Regions from separate parts of the Homo sapiens genome. Here region 1 is linked to region 2. A link means that fine-mapping ties the variant in region 2 to the expression of a gene that starts in the linked region. Tissue or cell type: left ventricle. Region 2 holds a variant in brackets; the other region holds the start of a gene. All regions are shown on one strand. Distances are between the middles of the regions.

What was found. PIP is the estimated chance that this variant, and not a neighbour inherited with it, causes the effect. A credible set is the group of variants that fine-mapping cannot tell apart.
Region 1: SEMA6B starts here. The variant in region 2 is the best candidate, but not a certain one, in a credible set for the expression of SEMA6B in left ventricle (GTEx, PIP 0.50).

Annotation. Positions count from the first base shown.
Region 1 is chr19:4,557,621-4,562,768 of GRCh38, forward strand. It overlaps SEMA6B (semaphorin 6B), which reads right to left and starts at 2,064. Exons shown (of 17, transcript NM_032108.4): 1 at 1,910-2,064; 2 at 717-869; 3 at 406-529. The coding sequence starts at 837.
Region 2 is chr19:4,607,184-4,612,331 of GRCh38, forward strand. No RefSeq gene overlaps it. Among named protein-coding and RNA genes, the nearest start is that of TNFAIP8L1, 30 kb to the right of the region's middle. RefSeq lists enhancers at 1-103, 104-661. The variant A/G (reference allele first, on the strand shown) is at 3,043.

The DNA of each region.
Region 1 (5,148 bases), 50 kb before region 2:
TGATCTGTCCGGTCTCTCTCCTTCCTGGGAAGCCCATCCCTAGAAGCCCCGTAATCTCACACTTGCTTCTCCCCACGACAGCTTCCACCTGGTCCAGCCTCAATCATAGCCAGCCTGGACAGCCCAGTCCCCTCCACCCTGGTCCCCTGGATTCCATTCTCGCCCCCTCCCAGAAGCAGCCACCAGAGGGCGGGCGCGTGTGAGCACCTGAGTCAGGTCCAGTCCTTCCCCTACCTAAAACCCTCCGTGGCTCCCACCTTCCTCCGGGTCAAAGCCTAAGTCCTCCCAATGGCCCAACAGGCCCTGCACGACCTGCTCCATCCCCTCCCTGCCCTCGCCTCCTCTCTCTCTCCCCCTCGCTCATTCTGCTCGTCACACAGGCCTCCTTGCTGTCCCCAGCAATACCTGTCCCCAATGAACAGCGTCCTGTTGACCCGCAGGACTCGCTGGATGTTGAGGTCGTCAGCACCTTCTGCGGGGGTCAGGCGTCCGGGCCCGCTGCCCACAAACACGGGATAGTGGTTCAGGTCTGAGTGAGGGGGTGGAGAGGGGTGTGAGCAAGGGCTGGGGGTGAAGAGAGGGTGGCCTGAGGTCATGCCCCTTCTAGGGGTGGCTCCTGGACTGCTTGAGTCCCCCAGTGGGGGCAGCAGACCCAACTGGGAACCCAGATACTCCCACGGGACTCCACCCCCGCCCAAAGACACCCCCAGACTCACAGTCCCTGGGGGCCACGCTAAGCGGCGGCGGCTCCTCAGGAAAGAGGCCGTGGGCGCCCCCCAGTAGCAGCAGCAGAAGCAGCAGGGCCGGGCGGGGAGGGGACGCTCGCGGGGTCTGCATGGCGAGGGCCAGGCGACAGGAGGAGGTGACGCCTGCGGGCAAGGGGCGGCGAGGTGAGCGGCCTGCAGTCCCGCTCGTGGCCACAAGACGGCGGGCGAGAGCAGCAGACGCTCCTTCAAATCCCAGAAAAATTCCTCACGGGGATAATAATTAATAAAAACAATAATGGCAATAATAATAATAATACACAGCACTGATTTAATTATCAGAACAACTTTATGGCCACGTGTGCGTGAAAGCCCAGGAAACGACTTCAAACAAAACTGCATTCGGTAATTTAAAACTAATAATAATTATTATAATAATAGATACAAATATCCTAAAACATATATTTAAAAATGCAATCGCAAAATACATGCATAAAAATACTTAGAATTAAAACACAAAAATATTAAACTCAAAGGCTAAAAAAAAAAAGAGTCAAAGGCTCTTGGAATTTTATAAGCCACAAGCTGGCTGTGTGTGGTGGCTCACGCCTGTAATCCCAACATTTTGGGAGGCCGAGATGGGAGGATCATCTGAGGTCAGGAGTTCAAGACCGGCCTGCCTAACATAGCGAAACCCTGTCTCTACAAAAAAATACAAAAATTAGCCAGGTATGGTGGCCTGTGCCCGTAATCCCTGCTACTGGAGAGCTGAGGCAGGAGAATCCCTTGAACCCAGGAGGTGGAGGTTGCAGTGAGCCAAGATCGCACCACTGCACTCCAGCCTGGGCAACAGAGCAAGACTCCATCCAAAAAAAAAAAAAAAAAGCCACAAGCTGGGAATGACAGTACTACATAACCACAGAATCACAGAATATTCCCCATGCCAAGGGCCTCTGTGACCCTGGTAGATCTGACCTCCTTCCCAAATCCAGCCTTTTCATTCTCCGCTTGCACACCTCCATGACAGGCACCTCACTACCTCTCACGGGGGACTGCTTCCCACTCCCATTCAAGGTAACTTTGCAGAAACTTCTAGGTGTGTGGAGTGGAGACACTCTCCCATCCAGGTAATGACATAGCAGCGGAATTCACCCTCTGAACCCCCGCCCTCCATGCTGAAGGTCCCAGTTCAGAGCACCCCCTACCAGAAAGGGGTACAGTCCAGGTCCCGGAGCCCCGAATGAGAAGTTCAGCAGCCTCGTCCTTCTGGGAAGTATTGGGCAAGCTCCGAGCCCATTTTCCTGTCTGAGCAGCAGGGGTATCCCCCAGCCCTGCCCTGGCCTTCTGGCTCAGGGATTCTGAGCCCCCAGAGGTGAAGGTGATTCGCGACAATCGGCCCTGGGGTGCCTGCCCCCTCCAAAAACAGGAAGACCTCGCATAGCGCGGCTGGACTTCCTCTTCACGACCCTGAGCTTCCAGGATTTGTGACTCAGCGAACACCCGGATTCCACGTGTGTTCAGGGCACGGCCCTGTTTCCTTCAGAATTTCCTTCCCTGGCTCCTCCCCTGCTCTACAGCCTCCTGTGGCTCCCAGGGACCCCTGAGTCCAGGCCCCAGCCTCTCCCTGGGATTCAAGGCCCCTGACCTCAGACCCCACTTCGGCCTACCCTCCCCTCATGCCACGGGCCTTTCTAGCCCCCTACCCCAGAACCTAACTAAGAGCCCTGTCTGCCCTGTGCCTTTAAAAAAAAATGGCTAAAATATATATAACATAAAAGCTGTCATCTTAACCATTTTCATTTAACTATTATTAGTAGTATTATTATTTGAGACAGAGTCTTGCTCTGTCGCCCAGGCTGGAGTGCAGTGGTGCCATCTCAGCTCACTGCAACCTCCCCCTCCCGGGTTCAAGCGATTCTTCTCAGCCTCCCAGGTAGCTGGGACTCCAGGTGCATGCCACCATGCCCGGCTAAATTTTTTTGTATTTTTAGTACACATGGCGTTTCACCATGTTGGTCAAACTGGTTTTGAACTCCTGACCTCATGCTATCCACCCACCTCGGCCTCCCAAACTGCTGGGATTACAGGTGTGAGCCACCATGCCCAGCCTCCTTCATTCTTATTATTTTTTTGAGATGGAGTCTCGCTCTGTCACCCAGGCTGGAGTGCAGTGGCATGATCTTGGTTCACAGCAATCTCTGCCTCCCAGGCTCAAGCGATCCTCCCGCCTCAACTTCCCAAGTACCTGAGACCACAGCCACGTGCCACCACGCCCAGCTAATTTTTGTATTTTTAGTACAGATGGGGTTTCACCATGTTGGCCAGGCTGGTCTCGAACTCCTGACCTCAGGTGATCCACTCGCCTTGCCCTCTCAAAGTGCGAGGATTACAGGTGTGAGCCACCACGCTCGGCCACCTTTTGGTTTTTTGACAGTCGCCATCCTAATGGGTATGACATGCTGTGTCTTTCATCTTGTGTTTTATCAGAATAATATTTAATTCTAGAAACTATTTCTTTAAACATTAAGAGACAGGGTCTGGCTCTGTTGCCCAGGCTGGAGTACGGTGGCACAATCACCACTCACTGCAGCCTTGAACTTCCAGGCTCAAGCAATCCTCCTACCTCAACCTCCCGAGTAGCTAGGACCATAGGTGTGCACCACCAAGCCTGACTTTTTTTTTTGCCGGGGGTGGGGGACGCAGGGGAAGGTGGACAGAGTCTCACTCTGTCACCCAGGCTGCGATGCAGTGGTATGATCTCGGCTCACTGCAACCTCCACCTCCCAGGTTCAAGCAATTCTCGTGTCTCAGCCTCCTGAAAAGCTGGGATTACAGGTGTGCACTGCCACGCCCGGTTAATTTTTGTATTAATTTTGTAAAGCACTTTGTGAGGCCAAGGCAAGAGGATCACTTGAGCTCAGGAGTTTGAGACCAGCCTGGGCAACATAGCGAGACACGCCCCCATAATCTCTACAGAACATAAAAAATTAACCAGGCATGGTGGCACGTGCCTGTAGTCCCAGCTACTTGTGAGGCTGAAGCAGGATGATTGCTTGAGCCCAGGAGTTCAAGAATGCAATGAGTTATAATTGGTCCACTGTACTCCAGTCTGGGCGACCGAGTGAGACCCTATCTCAAAAAAAATAAAATTAATTTAAATTAAAACAACGACAAAAAAACACCTAGCAAACATAAAGCACTTGCTAGGTGCCAGGCATTATCATAAGTACTTAAATTAACTCATTTAATCTTCACAGCACCCCCAAGGGGTGAGTGCTCTTTTTTTTTTTTTTTTTTTTTTTTGGAGACAAGAGTCCTGCTCTGTCGCCCAGGCTGGAGTGCAATGGCGTGATCTCGGCTCACTGCAACCTCAGCTTCCCGGGTTCAAGCAATTCTCCTGTCTCAGCCTCCCAAGTAGCTGGGATCACAAGTGCCCGCCACCATACCCGGCTAATTTTTGTATTTTTAGTAGGGATAAGGTTTCACCATATTGGCCAGGCTGGTTTTGAACTCCTGACCTCAGGTGATCCACCCACCTCGGCCTCCCAAAGTGCTGGGATTACAGGCATGAGCCACTGCCCCCGGCCAATTTTTGTATTTTTAGTAGGGATAAGGTTTCACCATATTGGCCAGGCTGGTCTTGAACTCCTGACCTCAGGTGATCCACCCGCCTCGGCCTCCCAAAGTGCTGGGATTACAGTTGTGAGCCACGGTGCCCGGTGGGCCCTTAACTGTTTTTAAGTACACACAGTTCACTAGCATTAAGAACATCCACATAATTGTGCACCCATCACCACCACCATCTCCAGAACTTTCTCGACTTCCCAAACTGAAATTCTGTCCCCATGAAACACTCACTCCTCACCCCCCTCCCCAGCCCCTGGCACCTCCCATCCTACTGTCTCAGTGAACCTGATGACTCTAGGGACTTCCTAGGAGTGGGTCACACAGTGTTTGTCCTTGCGTGTCTGGCTCTCTCACTGAGCGGGATTGCCTCAAGATGCATCCACACTGTGACCTGTGTCAGGGTTTCCTTCCCCTTTTTTTTTTTTTCTTGTTTTGAGACAATATCGCTCTGTCTCCCAGGCTGGAGTGCAGTGGCACGATCTCAGCTCACTGCAACCTCCGCCTCCTGGGTTCAAGCGATTCTCCTTTCTCAGCCTCCCAGGTAGCTGGGACTCCAGGTGCACGCCACCACGCCCGGCTAATTTTTTTTTTGTATTTTTAGTATACATGGGGTTTCACCATGTTGGTCTGGCTGATCTTGAACTCCTGACCTCATGCAATCCACACACCTCGGCCTCCCAAAGTGCTGGGACTACAGGTGTGAGCCTCCATGCCCAGCCTCCTTCATTCTTATTATTTTTTTGAGATGGAGTCTCGCTCTGTCACCCAGGCTGGAGTGCAGTGGCATGATCTTGGTTCACCGCAATCTCTGCCTCCC
Region 2 (5,148 bases):
GGACCCGGCCCAGCTGCTGACCTCGGGAACTCGAGTGCCCCCAGGGACGCAGACAATCAATTAGAATTGGCAGCGCCTGCCTAAGTAAAAGGCCTGCTTTAATGAGGAGGCTGTGGCTCTGCCGTGGGCGCAGGCGCTGGGCTGAGCCCGGCGCGGGCTGGAGCTGAGGGGTCACGTGGCCACCAGGGCCCACCTGCCTGTCACAATTATGAGTCCCCGTGTGTGAGCTCATTATGTTTATCATTAGGCCAGGGCTATTTACAGATCGGGGAGAGCAGCCCCTTGTCATGCAAGCCGCAGACATTTATTGAGCACCAGCTGTGTGCTAGGTCATGTGCTGGGTTCGAGGAAACAGTAGGGACAAGACGCCCTCCAGTGGGGGCCAGGGGAGACATCAGGGTGGGCTTCCTGGAGGAGGCAACACATACACTGAGATTGGAATGATGACTCGAAATTCGGTCCTGAAGAAGGGAAGGGAAGAGGATTGTCGAGGCCTGGTTAAGAATGAGGCCAGGTGCGGTGGCTCACGCCTGTAATCCCAGCACTTTGGGAAGCTGAGGTGGGTGGATCACCTGAGGTCAGGAGTTCCAGACCAGCCTGGCCAACATGGTGAAACCCCAAATCTACTAAAAATACAAAAATTAGCTGGGCGTGGTAGCGGGTGCCTGTGATCCCAACTACTCGGGAGGCTGAGGCAGGAGAATTGCTTGAACCCGGAAGGCGGAGGTTGTGGTGAGCCGAGATTGCGCCATTGCACTCCAGTGTGGGCAACAGAGCAAAACTCCATCTCAAAAAAAAGAAAAAAGAATGAGCGCAGCCTGGGTTGTGGCGGGGGGGGCTCCTACCTGTAATCCCAGTGCTTTGGGAGGCTGAAGTGGGAGGATCACTTGAGGCCAGGAGTTAAAGACCAACCTGGGCAACATAGTCAGACCCCCATCACAAAAAAAATAAAAAAATTAGCCAGGTGTGGTGGCGCACATCTATAGTCCAGCTACTTGGGAGGCTGAGATGGGAGGATTGCTTCAGCCCAGGAGGTCGAGGCTGTAGTGAGCAATGATTGTGTCTCTGCACTCCAGCCTGGGTGGCAGAGTGAGACCCCATCTCAAAACAAAAAATTGAATTAGTTCCCGTGTACGGGTTGTTCAAAGCAAGATAACACAGCAAAGGACCATGAAGCCTGCAGATGAATTTCATCTCGAGGTCCTGAATCAATTACATCTGCAAAGACCCTATTTCCAAAAAAGCTCATATTCTGAGGTTCTGGGTGTGTATAATTTTTTTTTTTCAGACAGGGTCTCACTCTGTTGCCCAGGCTGGAGTGCAGTGGTGTGATCTCGGCTCACTGCAGCCTTTACCTCCCCGGTTGACGTGATTCTCCTGCCTCAGCCTCCTGAGTAGCTAGGATTACAGGCAGCTGCCACCATGCCCGGCTAATTTTTGTATTTGTATTTTTATTACTTATGATCTTTTTCCTGAGACCAAGTCTCACTCTGCCACCCAGGCTGGAGTGCAGTTGTGTGATCTTGGCTTACTGCAACCTCTGCCTTCTGGGTTCAAGCGGTTCTCCTGTCTCAGCCTCCCGAGTAGCTGGGACTACAGGCGTGTGCTACCACCCCCGGCTAATTTTTGTATTTTTAGTAGAGACGGGGTTTCATCATGTTGGCCAGGCTGGCCTCGAACTCCTGACCTCAAGTGATCCATCTGCCTCGGCCTCCCAAAGTGCTGAGATTATTACAGGTGTGAGCCACCGTGCCCGACCTATTTATTTATTTATTTTTGAGACGCAGTCTCGCTCGTCACGAGGCTGGGGTGCAGTGGCGCGATCTTGGCTCACTGCAACCTCTGCCTCCTGGGTTCAAATGATTCCCCTGCCTCAGCCTTCTGAGTAGCTTGGACTACAGCCGTGTGTCACCATGCCTGGCTAATATATATTTTTTTTTTTTGTATTTTAGTAGAGACAAGATTTCTCTATGTTGGCCAGGATGGTCTCGATCTCCTGACCTCATGTTCCACCCACCTCGGCCTCCCAAAGTGCTGGGATTACAGGCATGAGCCATCGCGCCCGGGCTTTTATTTTAATTTCTATTTATTTATTTATTTTGAGATGGAGTTTCACTCTTGTTGCCTAGGCTGGAGTGCAGTGGCACAATCTCAGCTCACTGCAACCTCTGCCTCCCAGGTTCAAGTGATTCCCCTGCCTCGGCCTCCTGAATAGCTGAGATTACAGGCACTCACCACCATGCCTGGCTAATTTTTGTATTTTTAGTAGAGACGGGGTTTCACCATGTTGGCCGGGCTGGTCTCAAATTCCTGACCTCAAGTGATTCGTCCACCTCATCCTCCCAAAATGCTGAGATTACAGGCTTGAACCACCGCGCCCAACCGAGGTGTATGTATTTTTTTTTTTTTTTTTTTTTTTTTGAGACAGAGTCTCGCTCTGTCGCCCAGGCTGGAGTACACTGGGATGATCTTGGCTCACTGCAACCTCTGCCTTCCAGATTCAAGCGATTCTCCTGCCTCAGCCTCTCGAGTAGCTGGGACTACAGACGCGTACTGCCACGCCCAGCTAATTTTTTGTATTTTTAGTAGAGACGGGGTTTCACTGTGTTAGCCAGGATTGTCTCGATCTCCTGACCTCGTGATCCACCCGCCTCAGCCTCCCAAAGTGCTGGGAGTACAGGCCTGAGCCACCGGTCCCAACCGAAGTGTATGTAATTTTTGAATTTATTTTTGCAGGCAGGCACTACTCAACATGGTACAATGTGTGCTTGTTCCTATCTGCCTCCTGCTCTGGAATGTCAACTCCAGGAGGGCAGACTTCTGTCTGTCTTGAATGCCACAGTGTCCCCTGTACCTCAAATACTGTTTGGCACACAGTAGGCACTCAATACGTGTTTGTTTATTCCGCAAACAACTATGAAGCACCCACTGTGTTGTTCTCACACGGAGGTGGAGTTTTTCATGCTCCGAGGACTTGGGGCAGAGAGAAGGACAAGTAGGAGCCACGGTGACTGCGACTTCCTTTTTTTTTTCTGCAGCCTC[A/G]GGTGCCAGCAGCAATAACACAGGACCTCTAGGCAGAGGAAGGGAAGAGGCGCTGAGGGAGGCAGGGCTTCTGCGGCGGGGAGGGGGGGGCAGAGCCCCTGGGGATCAGGCCAGGGAGGCGGGAGTCCTGCTGGAGTCCCTGGGGTCCCCAGCAGAGAGGCTGGCTGGCTGCCCTGCCCTGGCCTGGCTGCTTTTTCTGGCTTGGACGGGAAGGGCTGACACCGCCAGAGGAGGGCAGGGTGGAGGCGGGGAGGGGGCCCGCACCTGGACCCAGGAAGAGGTGGGGGAAAGAAGTGGAGCCTGGGAAGGGGAGACAGAGGAGGTGAGGAGAGAAAGAGAGAAACCAAGAGAGATAGAAAGAGACCCACACAGAGAAGCTGAGCTGGAGTCAGACAGATAAAAGACACGGAGAGACTCACGCAGAAGGTGGCAAAGACAGAAACACAGAGAGATGGACAGAGACAGTCAGAGATAAAGGGAGACTCAGAGAGACAGAGGAGACCCACAGAGATACAGACTCAGAGAGATAGAGAGACACAGACCTAGAGAGAGAGAGAACAACAGAGACAGAGATAGAAAGAGATAGTCAGAGATAAAAGGAGACTCAGAGAGATGGAGAATTAGCCGGGCGTGGTGGCGGGCGCCTGTGATCCCAGCTACTCGGGAGGCTGAGGCAGGAGAATCGCTTGAACCCGGGAGGCAGAGGTTGCAGTGAACCGAGATTGCACCACTGCACTCCAGCCTGGGAGACAGAGGGAGACTGTCCCCCCGCCAAAAAAGAGAGAGAGAGAGAGAGACAAAGAGACTTAGAGAGAGAGAGAGAGGGAAAGAAAGACAGGGATAAAAGTAGATTCAAAGAGACAGAGAGAAAACAAGAGAAAGGAGACCAATAGAGATCAAAAGAGGTAGTCAGAGATAAAAAGAGACTCAGAGAGACCTAGAGACAGAGAAAGACAGAGACAGAGACTTAGAAAGAGAATGGGGAAGAAACAGAGAGATAGAGGCAGGCGAGAGGCTCCCTAGCCCATCCCCCTCCCCAATTTTCCTCTCTGGGGCACCCCTGGGGTCTGGGGCTCTAACCCTGTCCTGGTCCCCACCCCTCCCCCTAGCTGGTACTTCAGACCCCCTCCACAAACTGGCTGAGTGCCCCCAGTCCCTAACTCAGGGTCTCCTCAGCTCAGAGCTCCGGGGCTCAGCCCTGAGACCTTCTGGGATTCAGGATCCGAATGCCCAGTGGAGCCAGAATCTGAATCCCAGAGGCAGGGACACCATTAATCCTGGAAAGAGGGCACCCCCTCCACCCGGGCCTGAGCTGAGAGCGGGGAGGCTGTCTATATGAAGCCCCCACTTCACACTTCCCACAGGAGAGATTCACCCTGTTTCACAGGGGAGGAAACTGAGGCTTGGAGAAAGACGGGATTGTGGAGAGGTACACGTTTGTTCATCCAGAAAATATGCACTGAGATGGGCGCAGTGGCTCATGCCTGTAATCCCAACACTTTGGGAGCCCGAGGTGGGCAGATCACCTGAGGTCAGGAGTTCGAGACCAGCCTGACCAACATGATGAAACCCCGTCTCTACTTAAAAATACAAAAATTAGCCGGGCGTGGTGGCGGGCGCCTGTAATCCCAGCTACTCAGGAGGCTGAGGGAGGAAAATCGCTTGAACCTGGGAGGCAGAGGTTGCAGTGAGTGGAGATCACGCCACTGCACTCCAGCCTGGGTGACAGAGTGAGACTCCGTCTCAAAAAAAAGAAAGAGAAAAAAATGAGAGCGGGAAAGAAAGAAAGAATACTGGGTATCATATAATTGACTCATAAATATTTCAATTTTTCAATTTGTATCTTTTTTTTTTTTTTTGAGACAGAGTTTCTCTCTTGTTGCACAGGCTGGCGTGCAATGGCGCAATCTCGGCTCACTGCAACCTCCACTTCCTGGGTTCAAGCAGTTCTCCTTCCTCTAACTGGGATTATAGGAGTGCGCTACCACGCCTGGCTAATTTTGTATTTTTAGTAAAGACAGGGTTTTACCACATTGATCAGGCTAGTCTTGAGCTCCTGACCTCAAGTGATTCACCTGCCTAGGCCTCCCAAAGAGCTGGTATTAT